Linked DNA regions of Homo sapiens: regions 1, 3 and 4 are each linked to region 2. The links come from fine-mapping of genetic effects on gene expression. A gene starts in region 2. Each other region holds a variant in brackets. All regions are shown on one strand. Distances are between the middles of the regions. Region 1 overlaps SPDYA (speedy/RINGO cell cycle regulator family member A). Region 2 holds the start of PPP1CB (protein phosphatase 1 catalytic subunit beta). Region 3 overlaps PLB1 (phospholipase B1). Region 4 has its middle 19 kb from the start of PLB1.

Region 1 (7,891 bases), 100 kb before region 2:
CACACAAAAATAGTTTTTTAAAAAAGTTCAAATCATGTCAATCTTTAAAATTCTTCAGTGGCTTCTCAATTGAGTAAAGCTAAAGCCTGCATGATTCTATGTAATCTGTGTCCACCACCTTCGATGTCATCTCTTACCACTTGCCCCCTTTTATCTCCACTGCAGTGACAGTGGCCTCAACAGACTCCCCAAGTAGCCTACTACCTGAGTGTTTGTATTAAATATTTGCTGTTCCCTCCACCAGGAGCTCACTTCTCCCCTACATTTTCATGGGTTAAACTTAATTTTATTTTCTTCAGGTCTCTTCACTGACCAGTCTATGTATAAAATGACACCTCCTTTCCCTGACCTGTCCCTTTCTTTCCCTCTTTCTCTGCTTATTTTGTTTGTTTTGAGATAGGGTCTTATCCTGTCACCCAGGCTGGAGTGCAGTGACACAATCACAGCTCACTGCAGCCTTGATTTCTCAAGCCCAGGTGATCCTCCCTCCTCAGCCTCCCAAGTGGCTGGAACCACAGGAGCATGCCACCACGCCTGGCAGTTTTTTTTTTTTTTTTTTTTTTTTTTTTTTTTTGAGACGGAGTCTCGCTCTGTCGCCCAGGCTGGAATGCAGTGGCCTGATCTCTGCTCACTGCAACTCCGCCTCCTGGGTTCAAGCTATTCTCCTGCCTCAGCCTCCTAAGTAGCTGGGATTACAGGTGTGCACCACTGTACCTGGCTAATTTTTGTATTTTTAGTAGAAACGGGGTTTCGCCGTGTTGGCCAGGCTGGTCTTGAACTCGTGACCTCAGGTGATCCGCTCACCTCGGCCTCGCAAAGTGCTGGGATTACAGGCATGAGCCACTGCACCCTGCCATTTTTTTTATTTTTATAAATGCGGGGTCTCACTGTGTTGCCCATGCTGGTCTGGAACTCCTGGCTCAAGCAATCCTCCTCCCTTGGCTTCCCAAAGTGCTGGCATTACAGGCATGAGTTACCACGCCTATTCTGCTTTATAACTGTTTTTCTTCATGTCACTCACCACCCTCTGTCCTATTTATTTATATGTTTTCTTATTTTTGTTTAATGTCTACCCCTTCATTAGATCCCGTGAAACAGACTATAAGCTCCAACTATATCCTTACCACTTAGAAAAATGTTTGCCATGTAGACAGTGCTTAATAAATATTTGGTGAATAAATTAATAAGATGTCCCTTGACTGATTAGTACTGTTTTTAAAAGACACAAACAATCTAATATTTTATCATTTAGTAAATAGATATGCCAGCATATCTCTAAGCTTTCTGGAGTTAATACAACAGTAAATGTTACTTTATTTTCTATTTTGACCAGATTTATTTTTTGTTTTTAATTAATTTTTTATTTGAAAAATTTTCACTTATCTTTGTACTTACTGGCATCTTCTGTGACTATAGCCATGTATACTGCAATTGAAACAAGAATAAAGAGGAAATAAGGGATATGATTTTTTTTTTTGAGACAGAATCTCACTCTGTCACCCAGGCTTGAGTGCAGTGGTTTAATCTTGGCTTACTGCAACCTCTGCCTCCCGGGTTCAAGTAATTGTCCTGCCTCAGCCTTCCCAGTAGCTGGGACTATAGGTGTGCACCACCACACCTGGCTAATTTTTGTATTTTCAGTAGAGACAGGGTTTTGCCATGTTGGCCAGGCTACTCTCAAACTCCTGACCTCAGGTGATCCACCCGCCTGGGCTCCCAAAGTGCTGGGATTATAGGCGTGAGCCACTGCCTCTGGCCAACAATGTGAATTTCTGTTGCCAAAGCTGAAATAAAGCATTTAAATTTATAAGTTTTGGCAATAGAAATTCACATTGTCAGCCAGGTGCAGCGGTTCACATCTGTAATCCCAGCATTTTGGGAGGCCGAGGCGGGCAGATCGCTTGAATCCAGGAGTTCAAGACCAGCCTGGGCAACATGGCAAAACCTGTATCTACATAATATACAAAAAGTTAGCTGAGAATGGTGGCGCCTGCCTGTAGTCTCAGCTACTCGAGAGGCTGAGGTGGGAGGGTTGCTTGAGTTCAGGAGGTGGAAGTTGCAGCGAGGTGACATTGTGCCACTGTACTCCAGCCTGGTCAACAGAGCGAGACCCTGTCTCAAAAAAAAAAAAAGGAAATTCACATTGTCTCAAATGTTTAAATTTTTCATGTTGTAATGGCGTGTTTTACACTTGGCAATATTGATAATACAGGCATACAGGAATCTTTCTTTGGTTATATTCATATATACATACATAGCCAAATCAATATTTCCATATTAATATGCAAAGTACAAGACATATCATTATGATTTTTCAGTATCATCAAGTACTATGACAAATTGTTTTTTCTTCCCTGAGACAGGATCTCACTCTTGCCCAGGGTGGAGTATGATGGCACAGTCATAGGTCACTACAGCCTCGAACTCCTAGGCTCCAGTGACCCTCCCACCTCAGCTTCCTGAATAGCTGGTACTACGGGCTTGTGCCACTGCATCCAGCTACTTTTTTTTTTTTTCAATAGAGTCAGAGTCTCGCTATGTTGCCTGGGCTGTTCTCAAACTCGGCCTCAAATGGATCCTCTTGCCTCAGCCTCCCAAAGTGTTGGGATTACAGGCAGAAGCCACATTGCCCAACTGTATAATAATTAACATACCCTTTTGGGAGTGGTAAAATGATAGTTAATAATACTACCTTCTAAAAAATGAAATACTTTGATTGCTGTCCAAAAGTGTGTCATTTCACCACAATAAGAAAACTTATGCTTTATTTAAACGGAATCAGACTGATCCAGTTCTCTTTTTCCCCCACACAGGTAGCTTTGGATATGTTAAATCCTCATGTTACTTTGCCTGTTTTTTACCCACATCTTAAGCATGGTGGTGTATGTGCTGTATATGTAGTAAAGTGAGTAATATAACTGTTTTTCTTTGTAATGTAACTTTTAAGTGCACTTTTGCTTAAGTATCAAACTAAATTTTTTTTTTTTTTTTTTTTTTTTTGAGACAGAAAAAAACTCTGTCACCCAGGTTGGAGTGTAGTGGTATGATCTCAGCTCACTGCAACCTCCACCTCCCCTGTTCAAGCAATTATCCTGCCTCAGCCTCCCAAGTAGCTGGGGTTACAGGCGCCCGCCACCACGCCCGGCTGATTTTTTCTATTTTTGGTAGAGAAGGGGTTTCACCATGTTGGCCAGGCTGGTCTTGAACTCCTGACTTCAGGTGATCTGCTCACCTGGTCTCCCAAGGTGCTGGGCTTACAGGCTTGAGCCACCACGCCCAGCCAAAATATTCATTTTGTAACTGAATAAAGTGTATATGGCATCTTATACAACTGTTTTAAAATGACAAGTCCCAAGTTCATTTATATTACTGTATATTTATTTAGTGTTTTTTTTTTTTAAACTTTTTTCGTTTTTTTTTTTTTTTTTTTTTTTGAGACAGAGTCTCGCTTTGTCACCCAGGCTGGGGTGCAGTGTCATGATCTCAGCTCGCTGCAACCTCCGCCTCCTGGGTTCAAGTGATTCTCCTGCCTCAGCCTCCTGAGTAGCTGGGATTACAGGTATGCGCCACCACACCCGGCTAATTTTTGTATTTTAGTGGAGACAGGGTTTCACCATGTTGGCCAGGCTGGTCTGGAACTCCTGACCTCAAGTGATCTGCCCCCCTCAGCCTCCCAAAGTGCTGGGATTACAGGCGTGACCCACGCCCAACCCTATATTACTGTTTAAATCATTTTTTACATAAATAGTAATATAAGATGCATATTTTCTTCTGACAATCTGGAAGAAATGTTTTAAAAGTATAATGTGAACAGTAATGTTAAATTATGGTCTCTGTGTTTGTTTACTTAGAATTTTGTGAAGGTACTTTTTATGCCTCCTAACTTGCATATTTAAACCCTCTCCTGCCTTAATTTAACTATGGTATTTAAATGTGGGCAAGAGGTATAGGGAACTTAAATAAATATAATGTTATTATTTTAGTAGAAATGTAAATTTTTCACTTTTCTGAAAGCATCACACAGGTTATTGAACTTTTAGATGGAATTCGCACCTGTGAACTTGCTCTTTCATGTGAAAAGATAAGCGAGGTCATTGTCAGAGATTGGTTGGTTTGCCTTGCAAAACAGAAAAATGGAATTTTAGCTCAAAAAGTAGAATCTAAAATCAACACAGATGTACAACTAGATTCTCAAGAGAAAATTGGAGTTAAAGGTGAGCTGTTTCAAGAGGATGACCATGGTGAGCTTCAGTTTTACTTTATGCATGCAGTAATGAATGGAGAATGAGTTCCTGAGTATACTGACCAATAGATTATAAAAATATTCCTCAGCAATTTTCTATAGAAAAGTGTGATATTTATTCTGTTAAGATGTATAAGGCACAGAATAATGACTTTTCCTGCCTTTTACTTAAAACTCTGATACCTTTGAAGAATTGAGCTTTTTATAATATTCATATTTTACTTGTCACAAGGAGCTTGGTTTGTGAAATAATTTAAATGTATTAAGGATGTTTTATATTTAGATCACTGATTATTAATGGGACCTGATAGGCAAATAGCTAATATTCCAAAAAGCAACTTCTAAGATGCTGCTGGAATTCTTGAAAGAACTGAGTTTAGGTCTTTGTCATATATACACATTATTTAGGCCATGAACAAGTTTTCAAGTATCAGTTGATTTATGATATAGGCTTATCCATTTGGTTATAAAATCATATGTTTATTACATAATCATTGACAAATAGTTTCTGTATAATAACTGGCAGAGTAGCTCTAAAACATATGCAAGGAAATAAATAAAGAAAAAACTTACAATAAAGAGAGTAACTCATATTTTAACAGTTTTGTGAAAAAAATAGAAAATATTTTATGTAGCTTATAGTA[C/T]ATATATTTTTTTACAACAGAAGAATCGCATTCTGATTTTCCATATGGATCATTTCCCTATGTTGCTAGACCAGTACACTGGCAACCTGGTCATACAGGTGAGTAATGTTTTCAGAACATATTAAATGGTGTTTTTTCTTTTAATTAATATAATGACTTTATGTTTTTCTTCTCTTAAATTAGCTTTTCTTGTCAAGTTGAGGAAGGTCAAACCACAACTTAACTGAGTACTCCAGATGACAGTAACTGACTTGAAGATGGAAAAATATCAAAATAGAACTTTATATTGAAAATCACTGCTTCCATAGATTGGCATTTTTAGCTATTACTATGACTTATATAACTTATACATATAATTTTGAAAATAACAACTAAAAGATGTATAACATAGCAAAACTGCTTAAACATCCCATTTTGACACTTGTCTTGCAGTTAGTTTGACATTTTGTAGTTAATGATTCCAAATTGGTTTAGTTGGGCCATCTCATTCTTCACTTCCTGTAAACCACTCCATAGATTTGTCTTTCTTCAAGAAATTAGTTTTCTTTCCTTTATTTGATTGATGGTCATTGACTACTGAAATAAAATATGCATTTTAAGATAAATTTTATGTATCTGTCCATTTTAAATACATCTTATAATGGCTTGTATATGTCTTAAAAAATAATAAGGAAATCTGGGCTACAGTAAATAATGGGGGGAAACTTAAGAATGATATAATCACCTTAAAAATTGTAACAAAAGATGTAACAGGCTCTTGAATCTCTTTTATCCCCTCAGAATCTTTTTAACCAGCTTGAAAGAACATTAGAATTATTCAGTGTTACTACACAAATTAAATGTTTGGGGGCTGGGCACAGTGGCTCACGCCTTTGGGAGGCCAAGGCAGGCAGATCACCTGAGGTCAGGAGTTCGAGACTAGTCTGGCCAACATGGCAAAACCTTGTCTCTACTAAAAATACAAAAATTAGCTGGTTGTGGTGGCGGGCACCTGTAATCCCAGCTACTTGGGAAGCTGAGGCAGGAGAATCGCTTAAACCTGGAAGGCGAAGGTTGCAGTGAGCTGCGACTGTGCCACTGCACTCCAGCCTGGGTGACAGGGCGAGACTCCATCTTAAAAAAAAAATGTTTGGGGAATACATTTTGGAAACATGAATTAATTACAAATGGGACTTATTATTCATAGGCACCAGTTATTTAGCACTTACCACATACCATACATTGTTTTGAAAACTTTATATATGTTTTTCACTTACTATGGACAACTTATCTTTCAGGTTATCCATATTTTACAGATAAACAGTGACTTAGAATGATTAGGTCTCTGTTTAAATATAGATGTTTTATAGGTTTTTAGTTGTGTGTGTGTGTTTTTTTTTTTGAGACAGATTCTCATTCTGTCACATAGGCTGGAGTGCAGTGGCGTGATCATGGCTCATTGCAGCCTCAATCTCCCAGGATCAAGCAAGCCTCCCACCTCAGCTTCCCATGTAGTTGGACTACAGGCACATGCCACCACGCCCAGCCAATTTTTGTGGATTTTTTGGTAGAGACGGGGTTTGTCATGTTGCCCAGGCTGGTCTCAAACTCCGAAGCTCAAGCAGTCCTTCTGCCTTGACCTCCCAAAGTGCTGGGATTATAGGTGTGGAGCCACCATGCCCGGCCTGTTTTATGGGCTGTAAAATAGTAATGCCTTGGAGGGTAAATGCTACCATTCCTAGATTTATCTCTTAGGCTAGAAGTATTTAAAATTATACATGTGTGTAAATTTTTTATTAAATAACATATTATAGAACGTAGGACATTTTAAAGTAAAATCTCTGCCTTTTTAGAGTTTATAGTCTATGATAGAGCTTGACATTAATCACACAGATGTAAAACTAAAACTGTTATAAATTCCCCCCAAAGAAGTACAAGGTACTATGAGTAACCATAATGGGGGACTTTGCCCTAGCAAGTGACAATTGAGCTGAGAACTGAATGCTAAGTAGGAATTAACTACAGCAGGGAAAATGGGAATAAAAAGTGATGCTGGGGTAGAGTGGAAAAGACTGGATAGATAGATGGGGATGAGGCCATGCAAGTTCTCATATGCCCGTGAAGGAATTGGTGTATCCTAAGAAAAATGGGATTCCATTGAAGAATTTAAGTAAGGGGTGACATGTTTAGATCTGTGTTTTGAAAATCACTCTGGCTGCATTTAGACAAGTGATTGAATCAGGAGCAGAGTATTCTGGTGGTATATTTCTGTATGTAACTAGCTGAACATTTATATAATAATGATGCCTTTATAGCTTTTATAACATTTCCAGATACAGTTATACATTGCTTAACAGTGGCAGTACATTCTGTTAAATGCATAGTTGGGCAGTTTCATCATTGTGTGAACATTACATAGTGTACTTACACAAACCTAGGTGGTATAGCCTACTACACACCTAGGTTATATGGTATAGCCTACTACTTCTAGACTGCAAACCTGGATAGCATGTTACTGTACTAACTACCATTCGCATTTATAAGACAATGGTAAGTATGTGTGTATCTAAACATAGAAAAGGTACTGTGTTGCAGTACAGGTCTATGATGTCAGTAGGTGATAGGAATTTTTCAGCTCCATTATAATCTTTCCTTCCATCCTTCTTCTTTTCTTTTCTTTTTCTTTTTCTTTTTTTTTTTTGAGACAGAGTCTTGCTCTGTTGCCCAGGCTGGAGTGCAGTGACACGATCTTGGCTCACTGCAACCTCCAACTCCCAGGTTCAAGCAATTCCCCGGTCTCAGCCTCCCGAGTACCTGTGATTACAGGTATGTGCCATCACGCCCGGCTAATTTTTGTATTTTTTTAAGAGACAGGGTTTCACCATGTTAGCCAGGCTGGTCACAAACTCCTGACCTTAAGTGATCCATCCACCTGCCTCGGCCTCCCACAGTTCTAGGATTACAGGTGTGAGCCACCATGCCCAGCCATTATAATCTTAGGGGAACACCATCCTGTATGCAGTCC
Region 2 (7,891 bases):
CTTACCCGCCCCCCCCCCGCCCCCCCAAAAAAGGAAAACAGATTGTACAAACCAAATATTTAATTTGAATTCACAAAAACAAATGGAATCACTTATTTTTCCCCCAGTGTCTTTTCTAGTAACCTTGCACAACCCACTCGTGAAGTTTAAGTACCTGTAATCATATAAAGGTGCGTCTAATTTAAAAGGATACAAACATTTTAAAACATAAATCTGTTTTATGCCTACAAAATATATGGAAAATGAAATAAAATATAAATAAATTGAGATACAAACATATTTTTAAAATATTTAAATTTACAAGCAAAGTTTAAAATATATAAAAATATGCCGGGCGCGATGGCTCACGCCTGTAATCCCAGCCCTTTGGGAGGCTGAAGCGGGTGGATCACGAGGTCAGGAGTTCAAGACCAGCCAGGCCAAGATGGTGAAACCTCCGTCTCTACAAAAATACAAAAAAAATTAGCCGGGCATGATGGCGGGGTGCCTGTAATCCCAGCTACTCAGGAGGCTGAGGCGGAAGAATCGCTCGAACCCGGGAGGCGGAGGTTGCAGTGAGCTGAGACCGTGCCATTGCACTCCAGCCTGGGCGACAGAGTGAGACTCCGTCTCAAAAAATAAAAATAAAAAAAAAATAAAAAGGAGTAGGCCTCTACTTCCCAAATGTAAACAAGACATACACATTTTTAAATTAACTGTATTTCCCTCATAAAACAGTTACAAAATACAATTATTTTCAAAGCAAATTTCTCAAAGACCCAGCAAGATGTTCACATCTGAAACAAAGTCTTAGGTAGTGAACACTGACTGCAGGCACCAGGGGGCCTCCCAGGAATAACTTGATAGTAAAGGAAAAGGTAAATAAGAGTTCCTGGTAAAACTTTTGCTTCCTATTCAGTCTTAAGACTGCTGGATGGCTTTCACATCTGGAGCAAATACACAGTATTTAGTTACAGAACAGGTACTCACAGAACTTGGGTTTGAGATACCGACACATACTTTGAGAAAAAGGAATTACCCCTCCCCCATTACAATATTCTTTGATGATTTTCCAAATATAAGTACATACTGCTTCACTCTAGCAATTATCTTAAGGTAATTTGAAAGCAAACAGTACATATGCAATCGCTGGACGGCGGCTAACAAAGAGGCCTCTAAATTGTTTAAAAAGGATTAAAGGCTTTTCTACACACTCACAAAACAATTATTGATGACGAAAACTTTAGGGTAGAGGGACTGTTTGGCAGAAGACTGCATTTAACTTTGAATAATATCCTGCAATGAATCAATACATTTAACTCCCGGCTAGTCCACCTCTTCGTTTTCCCCCCTTGCCTTCCCACCAACATAAAACTATTCAATAAGAACACTTGAGCCCGGAAAGTTCAAATGCTGCGTAGACCTACAAATACCTTTCGAATACAAGACAGGCTTTAAAAATAGATTTTCACTAAGTTTGTGCAGAAATTAAGCTCTGCTCAAATCAAATGCAAAAGCCAATCCCTTCAGCAAACCCATCTACATACATCACATTTCTTAGGTGCATCTTCAACCTGATCAAATATCTTGTCTTACAATTTTTTTAGGCCAAGTAACAAACGGTAGATTAATTCCCGCTAATTTTATCCTCTCTTTAAGAAGAATCCATTCTATATAGCATTGTGTAAAAATGCAGAGCAGACGAAGCAGTCCTGTTAAGGACAGGTTTATATATATATACGTAAAATTCACTCCCGGAACGACAATCGGAGGCAGCCAAGGGCAATGCACAAAGAGAACAGAGAAGAACAGTGATTCCACGGACGCACAAAGCCCAGTGGCAGGCATCCTCTCCCCATCCTCGGGTCACCGGAGGCGAGCACCACGGCGCGCGGAGCCCGGCGGCCTTTCCGAAAGGCTGTCTCCCGCAGACCCGCTCCGCACAGCCTTCGGCCGGCGGGCCTGGCCCCCGAGGGTCCGCGGGAACGGCCCCCTCTCCCCCGATCTCCCCTGACCGCGCTCCCAGAGGCCGCTCCCCCGCGCCCAGAGCCTCCTCGCCCCCTCCTCGGTTCGTCCGCCGCGCCGCGCTCCCAGAGACTCGTCTCGGGGCGGGAAAGGGGTCCCCTCGCGTTCCGGCGGCAGACGGGGACGCAGGGGTCGGCGGCGGTGCCCGACCTCCCTCTGTCCCGCGGCCAGGCGCGCACTCACCCTCCAGCAGCCGGGTGATGAGGCTGTCCACGTTCAGCTCCCCGTCCGCCATCTTGTCGGCACAGACTCTCCTTCCCAGCAGCGGGAACAAGGGCTTCTCGGCGGCGGAGGCTGCGGCGACGGCTCGGCGTTCTCTCACCTACAAGTCACGCGGCGTTTCGACCCCGGCTCCAACTCCCCCTTTTCCCGGGCCCTCCCCCCACCCCCTCCCCGCCGGGTAGCGAGAGCGCGCGCACACTCGGAGGCACCCACGGAAAATAAATAAATAAACAAGAGAGGCCCCCTCGAACAGGGCCGCGTCAGACCCAGGCCGCCACCTCCTCCTCCTCGGCACCGCCCAGCTCCGCAAAGCTCACCAGCGCCGCCGACGGCCCCACCCGCAGCGCCACTCACTCCGCACGTCCCTTGCGCGCCGCCGCGTCACGCAGCTCTCCGCGCAGGCGCGCGGTGCGCTCCCCGCCGAGGCTCCCCTCGACGCCTGGGCCGCCGCGCAACCGCACTGGAGCGGCTTCTCCCGCTGCCGTCTTCGCGCAGGTGCGTCGCCCTCTCTCCACGTCCACGGCGCCGAGTCTCGCCACGGTGGCGCAGGCGCCAGGGAGGTTCCCCGGCTTTGCCGCGCGGAGGAAGTCCCGGTTACGCAGAGCGCGCTGGGGCAGGGCTGACCTTCCCCTTTCTCTACTTCACTGGCCTCCTCCAGACGTGGTGGTTGCGCCCTTTCGGCCTCGCTTTCCGTTTTTTGGCTTCATCCCCTAGATCTGCAAACAGTTCCTCGTGTTTCTTCCGTTAGCCGGGAAACGCGAACTGCAGCGTTTGGGACCCGGGTTTGCGCGTGTGGAAAGCAAAAGGGGTTACTCTGCTGGAGTTCGACATTGCAAATAAAGGTCTTTATCCCCGGCGGTTCTACAAAATTAGTTCTGCAGGGATTCTGGTTGAAAGAAGCGTTAAAGTGGGCCTTGTAGGAGTCAGCAATAATCCAATTTTACATGGGTGCAGGTGGCTGCCTGTGTCTAGCGCTTTCACACATCTCATATCTTCATCCACGCCGTGGGTATTTTTTTTCCACGGTGTGTTTCTGTTGCTGCCTCCAGTATATTGCTTAATCATCCTACCTGGTAATTATTTATGCATTTTTCTCCTACTCTCGACTCAGCTCCTAGGGAATAAAAACACATTAACTTATCTTTGTGCCCACAGCACCCACCAAGTATTTCCATCACGTAATACTGCCTCTAGAAAGGCAGGAGGAGAAGCAGTCACGCTAAGGATCTAGGCAAGCCAGATCTTTTGTCCGGTTTTAGGAGGTGGCCAGCCCTTACTTATTCCACAAGTGTTTTTCCAGAAACTCAGACTTGATATTGCCTCAAGTCCAAGGCAGTGTGCTTCCCCCACTCACATATCACTAATAGTAGCTAACATTTGTTCAGATCCCTGTATGTACTCTGCCACTGTTTTAAATGTTACACCCGGGTTACCTCATTTAATCCTTACAACTGCCCTGTGAGGTAGGTACTATTATTATCTCTACTTTGTAGATGGGATTCACCGAGGCACAGACGGTTAAAAAACCTAGCCCAAATAACACAAATAAACAGCAGAGCATGCAGTGCTAGAGTCTGCATTCTTAACAATTGCTATATTCTCCCTCTCCGTGAATGTGGGCTGAGATGCTGAAACAGGCATGTGCTGTGGGGGAGAAAAAGCTTTGTCCAACCAAGTGCTTTCTAATGTCCAGATGACATAGAGCTAGGATTTCCTAATGTCTTTTTTCCCCTATTTTTCTCTCCATTTCAGGGTTGAGTTTGTGCATCGATTGTGAACACAACAGGCAGCAGGCTATAATGGTGGTCCTGGCTGGAGTAGTTTTCACAGACTTCAGTAATCTGTGGAGATGAACGGGCAGTTCTCTGTAGTTTTCACAGATCACTGCCAGTTCGTTTTGAGGCCTTCAGGAGTGAAGACCTGGCTCATCATCACTCTTTGTTGTTTTGTTAAATTTATTTACACCCTACTTTATTCCAGAGGAAAGGATTTAACGTAGTTTACATAAATGTGTACATCAGGGTAAATTAAAAATAAGTACAGAGAAAAATAGGACAAAAGAAAACCGTGAGTGTGAAAGATAAGATTAAGCCAGCAGTTTTGTATGCAAAATGCATGGTGTAAGGTCCTATTGGTTTGCTGGAGGTAGGCCACACATATGACTCTCAGTTTTCTAGCAACCAAGAAAAAGATCAGTTGCAATCGGAGTAGGTGTTTTGGCTAAGCTGGAACTAGGACTTGAATATAGCAGCTTGTAGAGTTATACCACTTGCCCAAATCTCTTCCATGAGCCTCTTTAAGTGTAACAGAATGCCTGGGAGCACGTAAATGCTCCTACTTAGATGCCTACTTAGCCTCTAATTTTCATGGGGCCCATGAATCCCATGAAAAAGAACTTTGAACCCTGTCCACAATTAGAGTTCAGGTATACGCAGACATGTTTAAAGACAAGGGACACCCAAAGGAAAGATTGCACAGAGAGAAAGTGAGCATCCGAGAGAAAATCACCACAAGTGAGGCAGAGGGAGGCCGGTCTCAGCAGAGTTTTGGAGGTCGTGAGAAGAAGAGGTAGGAGATAGGAGAGTGGTTCCGAGTACTTGCCTGCTGATGTTACCTTCTCCACCCCCACCAGGTTTTCCAGTGCCTGGAGTCTTGGGCAGGAATGGGCCACTGTAAGAAAGAGCTTTATCACTAGGGCCTCAGCCAACTTTTCTGTGGGATATCCCTCCAAAATAATTAAGAGTTCAGAATGCTTCAGATTTTGAAGTGAAACTGGTACATATATTAAGTGTTACTTAATAACCCGATAGTTTCTAGGGCAGCTCACCATAATCCCAAGTATTAGCCACCACCCTCACCCCCTTCAGAGTAAAATGTGTTTCCTGAAGGAAGTTGGGAAAATGAAGAAAAAAAATACAAAAATCACCTATAATCTTACCAGTCATAGATGGCAGTTTTCCTGTCTTATTTCTGAATAATGGTTGTTAAACATTTGCCAGCACACCATAAGGCTTAGGGAGGCATCTGGGTCATGCATGTTAATATCCTTGGGTAATTCCAGAAATCTCTATGAAGGGAAACTCCTGTTATTTATCTAGACTTCCTGATTGCAAGGGGTTTGGGCATCATGATTTAGGGGTCTTAATAAAATTATTATTTTATTTTTACTAATAGATAATGTCTGTGCCTATCAGATAAAGGCAAACCAGTGCTCAGAGGAACCCAACCATCTCTGAATTGAGACCAGAGAGCTGTCTCTATGGATAGTCCTTAGAGAAGGCATTTCGGAACACAGTAAACAGCAGCCTGGTGACTCCGGTTAGTAAACGCAGCAAAGACTTTCATAGGGATGTTTTTCTTATATGCCTGTCAGTATTAGCCAGTAGCCAATCTGGTGTGAAAGTGAGTAAGTTTAGGTAGCAAAATGTGGAGGGGGTGATATATAGTTTTTTGCTGCTCTGGCTTAATCCAAGATGACTTTTAAATGAATGAATCAACATTCATTGGGCTGTCCTTCCATAAATATGATTCTTCTCAATCAAGTGTTTAATAAGTCTTAAGTAGTGGTAAGTTGAAATTTTACTAGTTGTATCTGGAGGTCAGCCATTCTTTATATCGCATGCATTAAGCTTTTATAGTCAGCTCAATTCAAGAAAATTGGAAAACCAGACAAGGACATATATGCATCATTAGGAGGCCACCTCTCTCAATACAGAGCCAGGCCTAGGTGGTACAGCCAGGCAGGGCCAAGATTTGTTCTTAAGATTTAGTTTTGGTTTCATTTCATTATACATATGAGAATAGCCAAAATTATAGCTAAGCCATAAGGCATGTCCTCAGCCAGTTTAGTCCCCCAGAATTATAAGGCAAATATAAATAAATGCCTCCTTCCCTGCCCTTGGTCAGTAACCTCCCCGGTGGCCCCAACCAACTCTCTCTTCTCTCTCTCTCAGTTTGTCTTAAGCTAACTCCATAGTACATCCGTATCTTTCAAGATAAAGTGATTGAAAAATAAATGTCTAGTAATTGAAGGAGTTAACTGGCTATTTAGAACTGTTAACTATAAGGCAATTAAAGCTAGGTGAACAGCTACCACAAGTAATGACTATTTAATTGTTGAAGAGTTTATCTGTGGCCTTTTTTTCTTGTAATTAGATTACAGGGCCAGTTGCCTTTGTTACAATAAAAGCAAGTCATCTACACAGGTAAGAATGTTTCTCTTTTATTGCTCCCCCCTCCCCCCATCCTGCTCACTGAAATGGATACCAGGAAATAACTGTTTGATGAGGGAAAGTATACAATATGTGAATATTTGTTTCAAATGAAACAGTGTACTGTAAATGTTTTGTTTCTTGTTGCTCTGTTTCTCCTGTAGTATATCCAAATCACATATAATTCACCTTTTCAGTTGGAGGTTTACCGCTAAATGGCTTAATTTTTTTTCTTTTTTTGAGACAGAGCCTCACTCAGGCTGGAATACAGTGGCTCATTCACAGCTAACTGCAGCTTTGACATCTCAGGCTCAAGCAATCCTTCTGCCTCAGCCTCCGTAGTAGCTGAGACCATAGGCATGTGCCACCATGCCCGGCTATTTTTTTTTATTTTTAGTAGAGACAGGGTCTCGCTGTGTCAGGCTGGTCTCGAACTCCTGGGCTCAAGCAATCCTCCCACCTCGGCCTCCCAAAGTGCTGGGATTACAGGCATGAGCCACCGCACCTGGCCCTAACTGGTTTTTATGTCTCTGTTTCAATTGGGTTTTGGTAGATAAGACAAGGAAAGCATTACTTTTTTTATGTAGTTATAAAATGAGTAGCTTCTCATAATATATAAGACCACATTAAAATTAATAGCATATGTCTGTTAAAACTAAAGCCAAACTATTTGTGAGCTGTGAAATATATTCATCAGAGTTACATCCAACACCAATAGGTCTTTTATATAGGAAACACTGGTTAAATAGAATATTTATTAATTATTATTTAAATCTTGATTTAAACCAAATCCAGTCTATCATAATAAGTTCTTAATTGAAATGCTCTATGGTACTTGTTATTTAAGAAAACCTTACAGTGAATAGACCTCTGAAGCAAAAAGAATAATGAACCAATTAAGTATTTATGAAACACTTAGTGAGTTTGAGTCTGTGTTGAAGAAGGCATGACTTCCCAACTTTCAAGTTGTTTAATGACTATGTGGGAAAATGACCACAAAATGACTTGGATAGTGGGAAAAGCATTGGCTTGGAGGTGGGAGAACAAAGCAGCTGAATAACCTTAGACAATTCAATCTTTCTGAACCTTGGATTCATTACCTACAAAATGTGCCCATTAATAAATGATTTCCAAAGCTTCTTCTAGCTCAAACAAGTCTCTGATTCTAAGACATACAAATAAAACCCAAAATGTAACATAATATTGTACATGCCGTCCCCAGCTCAGGAACTGGACCAACTCCAAAGGGTCAATTGTTCGGAACATGGAATATATTTTCCCACAGAGACTGTGGTACAAATGGTGGTTAAACTCTCAGATCAGTCTGCAAAATCAATTTAGTCCTTAATGTAACTATAGAAGAGTGTCCATGGCAATATAGACTCTAGCCACCAATTATAACAGAGTTTATGGGGAATATTTATTGAGGATTCCTATTTGGCATGGCAGAAAAC
Region 3 (7,891 bases), 150 kb after region 2:
GGCCTTCTGCTTTTATTGCTGCTGAGGGTTTTCTGGCCTTGGCCTTATTTGGTTAAAAAGCCATAAGACCGGGCCTAGAAACAGGAGCTGAAGACAATGAGAACCTGCCCCCACCCCAGGCCTGAAGTCAAGCTTAACAACCACTTACGGATTCCTCCTTAAAAGGAGCCTGGAGCTGCCGTGTCCTGGTAGGCCCACCCTCGTCCCTCCTCCATACAGCTCTGGGCTCTGCCCTTTGCTGCTGTCCTCTGTGATCCTTTCCTTGTGGAATCTCCCTAATCCAGGCTCTCCTCTCTCCAACCACAGCTCTTAAGCCTGCCTGGCTCCTGCCTGGGCCCTCTAACCTGCAGTCAGATTTTTTCATCTGCCCCAAACACCACTGCTAAGAGAAGCCCTCCTGCCATTTTCCTGGCATCCTGATTTCCTCTCTCAGGAGCCCACTTTTCTCACCGGGATCCTCTCCCTCTGCTGGGGCCCAGGCCTCCTCTCCCTGCTGCATCTCCTGTTCCCAATGACAGCTGCACTCTTGTCTCCCCTCTCACCTCCCCTGTCCATCCTCATGGACTCCCCTCCATCCTCCAAATCTCTCAGGCCTCAGTAAGGGGGCAAGATGGGTACTGAGGAAGCTGTGGTGGAGGACGAAGTGGGTAGGGCGAGCTGTGTGCCCTGGTTTGTGGAGAGGAGCCAGGCAGGTCCTCCCCTACTACCTGAGTGGGACAGGTGATGGGCATCTCTGCTCTCAGGTCCAGGGTCTCTGTTTTGCTTCCAAGTGGTTCAAGCTGATCAGGGAAGAAAAGAGAGACACGGGTGTAGTAGTTTGTTTCCATGGAAGTGAACATTCCCTGGCAGAATCCTGCAGTGGGGAAAGCTCAGAACTCGATTTCAGGGGGCTTGGCTCCCACTTCTGGCTCTGCCAGTTGCCAGCCGTGGGGTTTTGGGCCAGTCGCTTTGCTTCTCTGGGAGTAGCTTCCTTGGAGACTCGTCATGCTTCTCTAGCAGGGATATGCAGAGCCTTAAATGAGATAACGTGGCTTAAACTGCCTAACATGGTGGCCGGCACATAGGGAAAGTGGAATGAATATGGGGTTTTGGGCTTGCATTTCTGTAGAGAGGTCCCTCCTCAGAGTTCAAAGCTCTGAGGAGAGGGTGCAGTTGAGCCCAGGCTGAGCAGACTCTTAAGGACTCCGCATTTCCAACTGCATAGACGTTTATAGATGTACCAGCCACTGCCCCCTCAGCCTCACTTGCAAGACTCCATTCTATAGGGGCTGGTGCCCTGCCCTAGACTAGAACCCCAGAGAACAAGGAACACCCCACTTATTTTACCATATTGGTCCAAAGGGCTCTGGCCAGCTGGGAGTGGAATTTCTGATTTGGGTGGATGCAGTCTGGGGCAAAGAAGGACGTATCTGGGAGCCCATCCTGAAAGAGACCAATATACCCCCTCAAGATCCTATTGGTTCAGAGGGAGCCACCACCAGCGGACTTGGCCCTGGGACTGACCACTCAACACCTTCCTTCCCCTGGAGTGCTCCAGGTCACCAGCCACCACAGGGCCCATTCACCTTAACAGAGAGATCAGAGCGATCCCACAAAGAATAGTTTTGGGTGACGCCAACCCCCAACCTTCCTTTTTGACCCTACAAGTGCCCCTTATTCAATTAGAAGTGTCGTATTTATTTTTGGGCACATTCATGTAATGCCCGAGGCCATGCCACAGATGAAGGAGTGGGATCCTGGTCCCGCAGAGAGTCTTAGCCCAGCCAGCTGGGAAAAGCTACTTCCCAGCTTTTGGTCTGCTGGTCCTGGTAGTCTTGGTGGGGAGAATGGAACAAAGCCTTGGGGAAGGCCTGGGTAGTTGGGTCCCCTGACTCCAGCCTCTTCATCTGGAGGTGCTGGGGGTGCATAGAGCTGCTCTCCTTCCTGCTTTCCAGTTAGGTGAGGCTCTTGGGATGGCAGCCCAGGGGGACAGACCTCAGTCCTCACCTGGTCCACTCACAGATCTCTTCTGTTCAGAGTGGAAGTGCCAGGCAAAGGGCATGGCCTGGGTGGAAACAGAGAACCCCCAGAATGCTCCCTTATAACCGCAGCGTTGCACACGAGAGAGACCACGTGCGTGGCAGAAAACTAGTCATCTGGAGCTGGCTGTGTTCATGTTGGCCTCCCTGTCCCTTATTTCCTAAATGATCTTAGGAAGGACGCTTCACATCTCTGCACCTGTGTTCCATGCGGATGATCACACTCATTTCCAAAGGCAGATGTGACAGTTTTATCTATGGGAAGCACAGTGCCTGGCACTAGTAGGTGCTCAACACAATGGAGGCTGTTACAGGGGTCATGGGAGCCTCGCACATACGGATGTGGCTCAGGCGTTCAGGGAGCCTGCACCTGCCAGCACAGCGTCTGGAGAGCTGTGTCTTTCCCATTTTATGCACATGCTCGTGGAAGCAACTGGCAATTCTGCCTTGCATTTCTTCCTCTAAAAGAGTACCATGGGTGAGGGCAGGGGACATACCGCCAGGACAGGGAGCTGGATGTTCTGGAAGAAGGGCTGCAGCACCACAGAGAAGTCCTCCTGCGTGTCATAGCGGCCTGACCCCACCAGCTCGCGCATGCTGCTCTGGGGACACATGCACAGGGTCTTCAGCCCAGGCCCTGGGTGGGCCCAGGACCCAGTGAGGCAAGAGTAGGGGTGGTGGGCAGTCCATCTCCCTGGATGGAGGGGCCGACTCAGCCTTTCCCTTGAGAACACAAATCACCTGAGGGCAAGTCCCTTTCCAGAGAATTTGGAAACAGGTTGGGTCACCTTTTTGTTTTGATTGTAAGTAGACTACTCTCTCTGAAGGGCTAGGCAGGAAGTCCCAAAAGGGATAAAAACCTGGGAAGAACCTCCAGAGGCTCGGCACCTGCCTTTGGAGTGGGAGTGGGGGAGGGAAAGGTGGTCTCATGAGGCATCCAGGGCTACGGGCCAGGAGTTGGGGTTAAGCCCTCAACGGTAGCTGGGCCATGAGGGCTTTTCCACCTGGATCCTACTGGGATGATTCCAACCAGGGCACCTGAGACACCACAGTCACGTGAGACAGAGGAAGGCACCCAGGCTGCTCCCCGTCTCCCCACAATCCCTGACCAGCTTTTCCTTCCCTGTGTGCCTCCTCTAGGGGCTCTGGGCTGTGTGTTAGAGTGAACGTAGGGGAGAGGACACAGCATGGTGCCCTTCTTGGTCTTACCCGGTAGGCTCGGCTGAAGGCCTCCAGCCTGGCTAGCTCTTGGGAGTTCTCCCGCAGGGTCAGAACGCAGTTACACAAAACGCTGCACAAAGAGGGGGAGGCAGGAGGCCCCAGAGCTCAGGCTTCCATCAGGGGCTGGTTCTGATTGCCCAGGTTCAGGGGAGGGGTGGAGAGGCTCCCTCCCGCCCTGGTTTAGGAGCACTCAAGCCTTGAGGCTCTGGCGCACATGCTCAGGGGCAGGCTTCAGGCCTGGCAGGGGCACTGGAGATGGCCCGAGGGAGGGAGCCAGTGTGGGAATGAGCACCCTCTCATACCAACAGAGCACAAGTGTTGGACTGCAGGTGCTGGGCCTGCAACCGATTATTCAGCTGAGCAAATGAATTTGGGCAGTGAAAATTTAGTGTTTAATTAAAAAGAAAATGCATCCTCTGGTGTTGGAGCTGATATTTTGGGGCCTCTGATGCTATGCCTTAGACCTCTCCTTCTTTCACATGAGTGCCCTACTGTGTCCCCTTTGGTTTCATCATGAATTATTTCACACCCATCACATCTACTTAAG[A/C]GAGAGATTTCTAAAGCACTTGAAACAATGCCTGGTACACAGGAAGTTCTGTAAGATTTGCTGAGTAAATAGATGTGTAAGATATAAAGAATAATAAAACACACATCCATGTACTTATGGCCCAGTTTAAGAAACAAAACACTCCCAGTTTGAAGCTCCCTGTGTCCCTCCTAATTCTCTTCTTCCCCTAAAGGTAACTGAGTTGCTTGTACCTTTTCCTTGCTTTCTGTTACAGTTTGACCACATATGTCTACTTCCCTAACCACTGCCCATGTTCACAGTCTAGGCTATCCTGTCTCTCAAACACCAGCCTCTGTCCCAACTTTGATCCCTCCCCTCTGTGGCTGCCTGGTATCATAGAAGTTCCTGCCAGGCACCTTGAAGTTGGGTAACAGGGGAGTCATGGCTCCAGCCTCTGGAAGGGGACGTTCTGGCAGAAGTCCTCCTTTACAGACTTGGACACATGGATAGACCAAGTCACAAAGACCCTGAGGCATCACCACTGCATGTGGGCCAGACCAGGAGGTGAGGGCATCTCCAGTGTGGGGACAGCCAGGACCTGCCTACCTGGCCTGCTGCACTGGGCACTTGTCTGGGTTTCCCAGGAACACCTGCCGCATGATAGTGGGGTTCAGGAAGTCCACGAGGTTGACCAGGACTCTGGGCACCTAAGGGAAAAGCTGCAGATGAGAGGGGGGCTCCAGGCACTTCTTCCTGGGGCTGTCTCAGGGCCCCTAGGAATGGGTTCCTTTAGCAATCCAGCTTGGTCTTTCTGGAGTTGAGTTCTGGGGAGGAGTCTATACAGGGCTACCTCGTAGGGCCTTACAGGCCGTACATCACACAACTCCATGGGTGCCACCCAAAGGGGCTGCAGCGGCAATGGCACCTCCTGGAGTGGGACAATAAAGACTAAGAGATCATCTCTGTTTAGCCATCATGTAGCAAGCCCAGATACATTAGAATTACCTTCGGTGAGATAGGCAACCTCTTCCCTCCAGCCCAAACTGGCCTAACTCTGCTGAGTAGGCACGCAGACTCAACCCCCACAGGGGAGCATCTGGTGGTCAGAGTGCCCTGTCTCACGCAGCCAGGGCAGCTTGTCCTTGCCAGAAGATGGTGGTGGTGGAGGGGGAATGTGCTGCTGGGTGCAGGACCAGACAGGGGCTTGCTCTAGACACACCCTGTGGCTCAGAAGGCAGTGCCCAGCCTGGGGGCCACCTGGCTGCCACCACCAGAAAATGTCCCGGATAGTAGTGGGGAGACATTAGACAATTCCACCAAGGAGTGTCCCATGTAGTGGTGAGGGAACAGCCTTCCCTCCTTCAGACCTGAGGCCCTTCTGGGCTGATTCCATATAAAATAAGGTTTCCTTGGGGTTAGACCCCAACCTCTGAAAAGGGAAGGAGTCCATGCCCCTGGCTGTCTCCTTGAGAGAAAGGGGTTCTTCTCTCATTCTTTCCCCCCATCCACCTTCACCCTCACCATGCTTGAGCTGTTACCAGCTTGTGGAAGCCCCCCACCCACCTCTCTATGCAGGACGTCCAAGGCATTGCGGAGATGGTGAACAAAGTTGGCTGCAGAATACAGATTCTAGAAAGAGACAGGAAGGAGGAAAAGGAGGAACTGGTTAGGGTGGGAGGGCAGTGGGGCAGTTCTCAACTTCCCTTCTGGCTCCAGCCCTGAGGACTTGTTCCCCCTCTAGCCTCCAGCTGTGGCCAGCTCACCATGTCAAAATCTGAGATGAACAGTTGACTACTTGCTGTTGTCAAAGATGGGCCAGTGGGAAGACTGGAACCTTCAGCCAGAGCTTTGGTTCAGGAGCAGAAAGTGGAGACTCCTCCTTCCAATTGCTTGCTACAGTTTCCTCTTTCTGAATTCTCAGGAGTTATAAGAGAGAGGAGTAGAAATACCATATATCTGCCACCTGCTACCTCACCACCTAGGACATGGAGATGGTGCCAAGGACCTGGAGGGTGGTGGGGTAAGAAGTGTGTGTGTGTGTGTGTGTGTGTGTGTGTGGTATGTGTATATGTGCAGACATAGGTGTAGGTGGATAATCCTAGGATTGGTTTTAGGAACTGTTCTCAGGGAAGATCTCCAACGCCTACTGGGCAAAGTTAGGAACAACAAGTAGGCCTGGACCTGGCCCCAATTACCGAATCTGTGCAGTAGTCACATAAATCGCTGCCTCCGATCAGCACTGTGATGACCTTCCAGTCTTCATGGAAATTTACTCTCTATATGGAGGGAGGAAAATGCTTGATAATTTCCAACAAGGAAATGAAAATATCCCTGCCCTAGGAAATCCATTCAACCCTCTATAACATCCTTGCCCACTTGAAATAATGGAATCAGCATCTCTGAACTGAAGGAATTTTAGAGGTTTATTTATAGACCACAGACTCTTAGCATCAGGAGGGATTTTCAGTGTCGCTGTACCCAGCAACAAAGCTCTCTCCATTGACATACCCTCCTCCACAGGACCTCTGTCAGGGGGCTGTCCGACCACTGCTTGAATGCCTCTAATAACATGGGGCTCACTGCTTTTCAGAGCAGGCCACTCCGTTTGGAGACAACTTTAGTGGGTTAGAAAATTAATGTTTAGAAATAACAGTAAATCTGACTCACATGATCATCTTTCATCTTCTGCATCAGAGTTTGGACTTGGCTCATAAGATCCCTGAGAAAGAGAGAAAACCCATCCTTCTGTTGAGGAACAGTGCCCATAGTTTTCCTCCTAGAGGGCCTGAACCAGAGGCTTCTACAGTATCATCCCCACTGCATGAGCTGGCAGAGATCCCGAGGCTCAGAAACCAGGAGTGACTTGCCTCTTCTGGAAAGTTATTACAACAGATAATCATTTGAAAAGCCAATGATGTGTTTGTCCTACAGCTGTAGTCAAAGTACTGCCAATTATATTTGTTGCTCATGGTCACCTTTCTGGGACTCCACATGCAAAAGGGCCTTTAGGATTCCATGCTAAGAGACCATTCATCTCCTTTGGAAGACTAGTTTAGATCCTAAAATTAGACCTATGAAACTTCTAGCATGCTTCCTCTTTTCACTCTGGCTGCCAGGAAGCTGAGTTTGATGCTCAAACATAATAACCGTAAAAATGTTCATATCGACACACAGGCTTCCTCTTTATTTCCTCCAATGGCTGCGATTTTTCTCTTACGTATATTCTTTTGTTTGTAAACTTATCTAAATGGTTCTTTCAAAAAGAGGTAGGGAATCATATGTGCTCTACACATGCTTGGGTTTATAATTTATGGAAGGTGGCAGGCCTGGTGGCTCACGCCTGTAATCCCAGCACTTTGGGAGGCTGAGGTGGGTGGATTGCTTGAGTCCAGGAGGTTGAGACCAACCTGGGCAACATGGTAAAACCCCATCTCTACAAAAATTACAGAAAAATTAGCCAGGTATAGTGGTACATGCCTGTAGTCCCAACTACTAGGGAGGCTGAGGTGGGATGATTGCTTAAACCTGGGAGGTGAAGGTTGCAGTGAACTGAGATCATGCCATAGCACTCAGCCTAGGTGACAGAGTGAAACCCCATCTTAAAAACAAAAAAAGGCCAGGTGCAGTGGCTCATGCCTGTAATCCAAGTACTTTGGGAGGCAAGGTGGGTGGATCACTTGAGGTCAGGAGTTTGAGACCAGCCTGGCCAACAGGTGAAATCCTATCTCTACTAAAAATACAAAAATTAGCTGGGCGTGATGGTAGAAGCCTGTAATCCCAGCTACTCGGAGGCTGAGGCACAAGAATCACTTGAACCTGGGAGGCGGAGGTTACCGTGAGCAGAGATTGTGCCACTGCATTCCAGCCTGAGTGATAGAATGAGACTCTATCTAAAAAAAGGCCAAAATTATAATTTATGGAAGGAATAGATTTCAGGCGTCTGTGCTCCCCACTTCCACTTGTTCAGGGCCCCGTTATAGACCTGGGTGGGATGGATCCATAGCAAGGTGATCTCCTAGGACACGGTGGTGGGACCATCTGTCCCCAGCTGTTTCTATTACCAAGAGTCTTTCCAGGCTGAGGGAGTGGGTCTGGGGGCCACACCCCTCAACCAGAAGGTGTGGGCCTGAGCAAGAAGATGACA
Region 4 (7,891 bases), 270 kb after region 2:
CCCTGAATACTGACAAGGCAGACACACCCCTTGAATTCAGAATCTCCCAGAGGCCTATAATCCAGGCTTGCCAAATGATATGGTTTGCCTGTGTCCCCACCCAAATCTCATCTTGAATTGTAGCTCCCATAATTCCCATGTGTTGTGGGAGGGGCCTGGTGGGAGATAACTGAATCATGGTGTGGTTTCCCCCATACTGTTCTTATGATAGTGAATAAGTTTCACGAGATCTGATGGTTTCATACAAGGAAACCCCTTTCACTTGGTTCTCATTCTCTCTTGCCAGCTGCCATGCAAGACTTGCCTTTCACCTTCCACCACGATTGTGAAGCCTCCCCAGCCACGTGGAACTATGAGTCCATTAAACTTCCTTTTCTTTCTAAATCACCCAGTCTTGGGTATGTCTTTATCAGCAGCATGAAGACTGACTAATACACCAGATTTCTGCCAATGAATTCACACATTGGTCAGAACATCATGTAGGGTCCCCCAGTTCCCATTGCTTTCTTTCCATGTCCTGGCCAAAAGTCACAGCCACACCTTGACTGCTCTATGACACAGCCAGCTGCAGGTTTTCCCAGCAGGCTTGAACCCAAACTTTGGCCTTGAACATTTCCAGGCACTGATGAAGGTATCTAGCTTGTTGCCTAAAACACTGAAAGAAACTGGCCCCAGCCTTAAGCCAAATTCCTTAAATCTTCGTATAAACTCCCATACTCAGACTGCCTGGCTAGTGCTTCTTTCTCGGGAATTCCAGCCAGCCCCATCTTGGGATGGTTTGGGGGCATTCCCCACCCTCCCACCTTTGGTTGCTTCTCATTATCAAGCAGGACTCATCTAAGCCCCTCTTGAGCAATGAGACAGGCACACAGGATTCTGCAACGTTCCTGTTTTTTGGTTTTTTGTTTGTTTTTGAGATGGAGTCTCTTTCCGTTGTCGCCAGGCTGGAGTGCAGTGGCACGATCTCGGCTCACTGCAACCTCTGCCTCCTGGGTTCAAGCGATTCTCCTGCCTCAGCCTCCTGAGTAGCTGGGATTACAGGTCAGGTGCACATCACCATGGCTCGGTTAATTTTTGTATTTTTAGTAGAGACAGGGTTTTGTCATATTGGCCAGGCTGGTCTTGAACTCCTGACCTCAGGTGATCCACCCACCTCAGCCTCCCAAAGAGCTGGGATTACAGGCGTGAACCACCGTACCCGGCCAATGTTCCTGTTCTTTAAACAATACATTGTGCTTTGAAATACTGGGAACTATTTCATTGTCCATCATCAGAGAGTGTCCTAATAAGCTGTGGAATAGCCACACTATAGGATACACAGGAATGAAGAAGAATGAGGTGGAGCCACACAGATTCACAAAGCTTTTCAGGATTATTAGGTTGGTGCATAAGTAATTGCAGCATTACTTTAATGGCAAAAAAAACTGCAATTACTTTTGCACCAACCTAATATAATGTTGAGTGAAAAAACTAAGAAGCTGACAGGTAAGAACAGTGAGATACCAATCAAATACTATATTTTTCTATGGGAAACTACATATGCATGTGTGTATGTGTGTGTGCATATGTAATACATATAGAAGAAAAGGCTTATAAGGATATTAAAAAGTCATATAAGTGGTTACCAGGTTACCTCTGCTTGGGGATTGGCGGTCTAAAGGTCTTTAGCCTTATTAAAGTTGTCTATACAGGCTGGGCTCAGTGGCTTACGCCTGTAATCCCAGCACTTTGGGAGGTCAAGGCGGGTGGATCAGCTGAGGTCAGGAGTTCAAGACAAGCCTGGCCAACATGGTGAAATCCCGCCTCTACTAAAAATACAAAAATTAGCCGGGCGTGGTGGCGGGTGCCTGTAATCCCAGCTACTCGGGAGGATGAGGCATGAGAATTGCTTGAACCTGAGAGGCGCAGGTAGCAGTGAGCTGAGATTGTGCCACGGCACTCCAGCCTGGGCAACAAGAGTGGGATTCCATCTCAAAAAAAAAAAAGTTGTCTATACATATTTTGCTTCAAGGATGTATTCCAGTACTGCTTGAATAACTAGACATTTTTTAAGGAGGTAAGAGAACAGTTGGAACTTTCTAGGTGATTGGGTGATATATTGACTTGGCTGACATCCCAATTCTGCTATTTATACTATGAATCATTTGCCCTGTGGGGGGCTTCAGTTTTCTCATTGCTAAAATGGGAATAATATCCTTCCCCCAGTATTTTTGAATATCTCAATGAGATGATGTAAGACCCTTCGCAGGGCCAAAGTGCCATGTAAATATCAGCTTAGTGTCCTCTCTACGGCTCCCATTGGCCCCTCTTCCTTCTCAACAACTTCTATTGACTCCTGTCCTGCTCTGAACTCTCTCCTGGACTTGCCTAACTCTCCTGCCCTCACTTTTTTACACCTCCTTGCCTTTTATGATGTTCATGAAATAGAAGGATAAAAGTAACTCTTCCTGTTGTCTGGGCAGAGCCCCTAAAGTCCTAGAGCAATTCAGAAGGTGCCAAACACACTGTTTCCTAAGTTGGGATGCAGGACCACTGTGCTACTTGAGTAAGGGTCTGTGAAATCAATCATGCCATCCTCAGTCTATCACCCACCTCCAACTCTTTGGGAGACTGAAGGGGCATGGGGCACATGGTGAGGATTTCTCTGAAGGGAAGTGATCAATGGGCTGTAGGGGATATCAAAGAATGTGTCAGGCATCCCCTGAAATTTGAGGAACACAGGAACGGATTGACCGACCCACCCTTGAAAAAGCCCCTGTGTGAGAGGGAGTGGCTGGGTAAAGAGGGGCTGTCTTAGAAGAGCCTGTGCCTCCAGGGTTTAGGGGAGCAGGGATGGGCGTGGGGGCCAGATACAGAACCTGCAGAAGCAGACTCAGAAGGGGTGAGGTGAGGGCTGATGGGAG[C/T]CTGAGAGATCTTATGTGGCCAGGCCAAGGAGGCAGCCACGTCTGTTGACTGAAGCCTCAGCAATTCGAGAGGCTTCAGAGCAACCACAGACTCCTAGGGCAGAACTAACTCTGCAATCTGCCATGTCCAAGGGCACTAATGCCAGATACAGCTGCAAAAGGTCAAGCTAGCCCTTCCTGGCCTCCCTCTGCTTTCTTCCTGTCTCCTCCACCCCTGGAGCAGCCTGGGGAGAAAAGGTGAACAGAGAAGTAAGAGAAGGAGACAGTTCTCTGCCCTTGCAGCTTCCCCAGCCTGAATGGGCTTGGCAGAGACATTTTCAATGGAACAGAGCTTGAGGTTTGACATCACATGGGGCTAGATATTTTATTACATGAGAGTGGTCAGAAAAGGATGGGAGCTGCCTGGGGTTTTTCTGCGGGGCAGAATGGGTCCGAAGAATGGTTTGCTGGAGAGGATAAGGTGCTTTCTGCTTCTGTCATGTGCCCAGCTTGTTTGGGAAGGTGGTCACCTGTGTTTCCTATCTGCCTACATAGATGAATATCCTAGGTTTCAACAGACATGACTGAGCCTCCACCAGGCATTAAGCCTGGGGCCTCTCTCTATCTCTTTTGGTTTCATGCTGCAGCCCAGCTTGTCTGATCTGAAACTTTCCCTTGCCCCATTTTAAGATTTGAGAATGCATGTGTCATGAAAGCTTCTCATCAGAGGCCTGGATCCTCCAGGTACCAGACCCCATGTATCCAGGTGGATCCCACTTAGGAACCCAGGCAGCCCAAGGGCTTCTGAAATAGCAACACCTGATAGCATGTCCGCTGGGGGCTCAGGGACCCTGTCCCAGCCATGCTGGGCACAGCGCAGAGGAGAAGCCTTCTCCTCTCCTTGAGCCTCTCAGTTGCTTCTGCCAGTTAGACCCCACCTGCTAAAAGACCTCAAGGCTCCCTATAATTGTCCAAGTCAGCAGATGTCTTAAAAACGATGTGCCTCAGTCCCAAGTGTGTAGTAGTGATTTACAGAGAACATAGGGCCACTCACCTTGCAATAAATCCTCAAGGTGGACTCTCCTTTCCTGCAGGCCTCTCCCCTCCTCCTTTCTCATATGGGTGGCAAATAAAACAATTCTTTCCCCAATTCAAGGCCCAGTCCTCAATCAGCATTTCTTCCCTTCCCCTGTGGCCATCACCTCCCTGGAGCCTTGTGTTCCAGGCCCTCTCGCCTCCCTCTCACTGACCCCTGGTGCTCCAGGTGCCCAAACCTTACCCGGCACTCAAGGACAATATGCACCTCCCCTGCAAAACTCAGTGACCTGAACCCAGAGGCATCCTCCCTGAGAGGAGCCTGAGGTCAACACATGTTTACTGTGCCACTTCCATATGCCAGGTGTGCCCACTGACCTCAAAGAACTTATATTCTATATGCCAGGCGTGGCCACTGACCTCATGGAACTTGTATTCCATACGCCAGGTATGGCCACTGACCTCATGGCTGGGGCAGGGTCTCTGAAGGGACATGCTATCAGGTGTTGCTATTTCTGTTTGTTTTGTTTTTTTTTTGTTTTTGTTTATTTATTTATTTATTTATTTATTTATTTTTTGAGATAAAGTCTCGCTCTTGTCTCCCAGGCTGGAGTGCAATGGCATGATCTCGGCTCACTGCAACCTCCACCTCCTGGGTTGGAGCAATTCTCCTGCCTCAGTTTCCCAAGTAGCTGGGATTACAGGCGCCTGCCACCACGCCCGGCTACTTTTTTTTTTGTATTTTTAGTAGAGACAGGGTTTCACCATGTTGGCCAGGCTGGTCTCGAACTCCTGACCTCAGGTGATCCACCCGCCTCAGCCTCCCAAAGTGCTGGGATTACAGGCGTGAGTCACCATGCCAGGCCAGGTGTTGTTATTTCAGAAGCCCTGGGCTGCCTGGGCTCCCAGGTGGGATCCGCCTGGATACATGGGGTCTGGTACCTGAAGGATCTGGGCCTCTGATGAGAAGCTTTCATGACACATGCATTCTCAAATCTTAAAATGGGGCAAAGGAAAGTTTCTATATTCTAAGCACTGTAGAGAGGCATTCATCAAAGAATTTCACAAATGAATATAAAATGATAATATGGAAACATACCAGCAGGTGCCTCTCCTAGGCTCTTTGCACAGCTCTGTGATTAGTAGGATCTTGGGGAATTCCAGGAAAGACCAGGTGGCTGTAATGCAGAATGAAGGGAGCTTGAGGCAGGAGAGGTCAGCAGGAGCCCCCTAGGCCTTGGTAACATCTGGGCCTTTATTCTAAGAGGAAGAAGAGGCTGGTAAAGGGTTGTAAGTGGGAAAGTGACAGGACCTGCTTCATGTTTTCAAAAGCTGACAGATAGCTGCATGGAGAAGGGAAGGCTGGGAGATAAGGACAGAGCCAGGAGCCCAGTCAGGAGGCTGTCACTCTCCAAGCCAGAGCTGAAGGAGGCTCATGGTGGTGGAGAAGGAGGAAGGTGGTGGGAGGTGAGGCCAGCTGGACTTCCGGGGTTGAGTGGGGACTTAGGGAACTTCCCTGTCTCACAAGAGGATTGTAAAATGCACCAATCAGCACTCCATAAAATGCACCAATCAGCGCTCTGTAAAACACACCAATCAGCACTTTGCAGCTAAAGCACCAGTTTGGGGCCAATAAGGGAAAGGATTCTAAAAGTAGCCAATCACGGGGAGGATTGAAAAAAGGCACTCTGATAGGACAGAAATGGAACATAGGAGGGGACAATAAGGGAATAAAAGCTGGCCACCCCAGCCAGCAGCAGCAACCCACTTGGGTCCCCTTCCATGCTGTGGAAGCTTTGTTCTTTCACTCTTCACAATAAACCTTGCTACCGCTCACTCTTTGGGTCTGTGCCATCTTTAAGAGCTGTAACACTCACTGCGAAGGTCCCCGGCTTCATTCTTGAAGTCGGCCAGACCACGAACCCACCAGCAGGAACCAATTCCAGACACAGTGGGTAAGGAGATGTTCAGGAAGTGAAACTGATGGATGATGTGTGTAGGTAACGAAAGATCTCTGACCTTTGCACTGGAATGGATGCACTTCATTCCCTGCATAGGGATCACTGGGCATGGGAATTTTGGAAGAATGCAGAGGGAAATCATCAATGCAGATGTGGACACAAGCAGCATGCAGTGCCTTTAGGACACACACTCAAGAGATGCCGGAGGGGCAGGTAGACCCATGGATCAGAAACTCAGATGAGAACTCTGGGCCAGAGTGGCTAAGAGTCAGATGCAGTCACTCAAGCTGTGGCAGCAGAGCCTGCTAGGAGAGAGAACAAGGGGGAAGGGAAGGGCCTGGGGAACTCTTAATGATATTTAATAGCTGGGCAGATAAGAAAAAATCCTACAGTGCAGACAGAGGAAAAACTGATTGGAGAAGTAAAAGGTTTGTGTCAGGGAGAGAAGTATGTTTTTAAAATAGAGAATACTGCTGAAAAGTCAAGGATATGAGGCCTGGAAAATTGGGTTTTCTCAATAAATAAAAATAAAATAAAAATTGCTGACCTTAGTGGGATCCCTAGAGCCTCAGCTCAGTGTCCCTGGGCACCTATTTCCAATCTGGAATTTTTTTTTTTAAGAGACAGAGTCTCACTCTGTCATCCAGGCTGGAGTGCAGTGGCACCATCAACGCACTGCAGCCTTGAGCCTGGGCTCAAGTGATTCTCCCGCCTCAGCCTCCAGCGTAACTGGTACTACAGGCACACACCATCATGCCTGGCTAATTAAAAAAAATTTTTTTTTTTTAGAGATGGGCTCTTGCTATGTTTTGCTCAAGCTGGTCTTGAACTCCTGGTCTCATGTGACCCTCCCACCTTGGCCTCCCAAAGTGCTGGGATTATAGGCATGAGCCAATGTGCCCAGCCACCACTCTGGTGTGTCTGGAATTGGTGGGTTCTTGGTCTCACTGACTTCAGGAATGAAGCCGCGGACCCTCGCGGTGAGTGTTACAGTTCTTAAAGGCGGCGTGTCCGGAGTTTGTTCCTTCTGATGTTCGGATGTGTTCGGAGTTTCTTCCTTCTGGTGGGTTCATGGTCTCGCTGACTCAGGAGTGAAGCTGCAGACCTTTGCGGTGAGTGTTACAGCTCTTAAGGCAGCATGTCTGGAGTTGTTCCTTCCTCCCAGTGGCTTCGTCGTCTTGCTGGCTTCAGGAGTGAAGCTGCAGACCTTCACGGTGAGTGTTACAGCTCATAAAGGCAGTGTGGACCCAAAGAGTGAGCAGTAGCAAGATTTATTGCAAAGAGCGAAAGAACAAAGCTTCCACAGTGTGGAAGGGGACCCCAGCAGGTTGCCACTGCTGGGTTGGGCAGCCTGCTTTTATTCTCTTATCTGGCCCCACCCACATCCTGCTGATTGGTCCATTTTACAGAGAGCTGATTGGTCTGTTTTGACAGGGTGCTGATTGGTGCATTTACAATCCCTGAGCTAGACACAAAAGTTCTCCACGGTCCCCACTAGATTAGCCAGATACAGAGTGTCAATTCGTGTATTTACAAACCCTGAGCTAGACACAGAGTGCTGATTGGTGCATTTACAAACCTTGAGCTAGATACAGAGTGCTGATTGGTGCCTTCACAATCCCTTAACTAGACATAAAGGTTCTCCAAGTCCCCACCAGATTAACTAGATACAGAGTGCTGATTGGCGCATTCACAAACCCTGAGCTAGACACAGGGTGCTGATTGGTGTGTTTACAAACCTTGAGCTAGATATAGAGTGCTGATTGGTGTATTTACAATCCCTTAGCTAGACATAAAGATTCTCCAAGTCCCCACCAGACTCAGGAGCCCAGCTGGCTTCACCCAGTGGATCCTGCACTGGGGCCGCAGGTGGAGCTGCCTGCCAGTCCCGCGCCATGTGCCCACACTCCTCAGCCCTTGGGCGGTCAATGGGACTGGGTGCCATGGAGCAAGGGGCGGTGCTCGATGGGGAGGCTCAGGCCACGCAGGAGCCCATGGTGGGGGAGTGGCGAG

The links. PIP is the estimated chance that this variant, and not a neighbour inherited with it, causes the effect.
Region 1: its variant is the best candidate, but not a certain one, in a credible set for the expression of PPP1CB in whole blood (TOPMed, PIP 0.63).
Region 3: its variant is the best candidate, but not a certain one, in a credible set for the expression of PPP1CB in whole blood (INTERVAL, PIP 0.71).
Region 4: its variant is the best candidate, but not a certain one, in a credible set for the expression of PPP1CB in whole blood (TOPMed, PIP 0.75).

What each region holds. Positions count from the first base shown.
Region 1 is chr2:28,847,422-28,855,312 of GRCh38, reverse strand. SPDYA (speedy/RINGO cell cycle regulator family member A) reads right to left here. Exons shown (of 8, transcript NM_182756.4): 8 at 4,703-5,463. The coding sequence ends at 5,372. It overlaps TRMT61B (tRNA methyltransferase 61B), which reads left to right. Exons shown (of 7, transcript NM_017910.4): 4 at 2,814-2,905; 5 at 4,015-4,241; 6 at 4,908-4,985; 7 at 5,071-5,492. The coding sequence ends at 5,114. Among named protein-coding and RNA genes, the nearest start is that of TRMT61B, 19 kb to the left of the region's middle. The variant C/T (reference allele first, on the strand shown) is at 4,888.
Region 2 is chr2:28,746,473-28,754,363 of GRCh38, reverse strand. It overlaps PPP1CB (protein phosphatase 1 catalytic subunit beta), which reads right to left and starts at 2,534. Exons shown (of 8, transcript NM_002709.3): 1 at 2,188-2,534. The coding sequence starts at 2,239. It overlaps PPP1CB-DT (PPP1CB divergent transcript), which reads left to right and starts at 2,608. Exons shown (of 5, transcript XR_007086259.1): 1 at 2,608-2,721; 2 at 3,979-5,544; 3 at 6,382-6,431. RefSeq lists silencers at 1,882-2,101, 2,592-2,781 and enhancers at 1,964-2,608, 2,912-3,121, 6,033-6,112.
Region 3 is chr2:28,599,384-28,607,274 of GRCh38, reverse strand. PLB1 (phospholipase B1) reads right to left here. Exons shown (of 58, transcript NM_153021.5): 36 at 6,415-6,466; 37 at 5,943-6,023; 38 at 5,311-5,376; 39 at 4,354-4,454; 40 at 3,228-3,309; 41 at 2,516-2,620; 42 at 1,327-1,422; 43 at 708-779. Among named protein-coding and RNA genes, the nearest start is that of PLB1, 110 kb to the right of the region's middle. RefSeq lists enhancers at 1-366, 367-998. The variant A/C (reference allele first, on the strand shown) is at 3,787.
Region 4 is chr2:28,472,905-28,480,795 of GRCh38, reverse strand. No RefSeq gene overlaps it. Among named protein-coding and RNA genes, the nearest start is that of PLB1, 19 kb to the left of the region's middle. RefSeq lists an enhancer at 3,534-3,583. The variant C/T (reference allele first, on the strand shown) is at 2,904.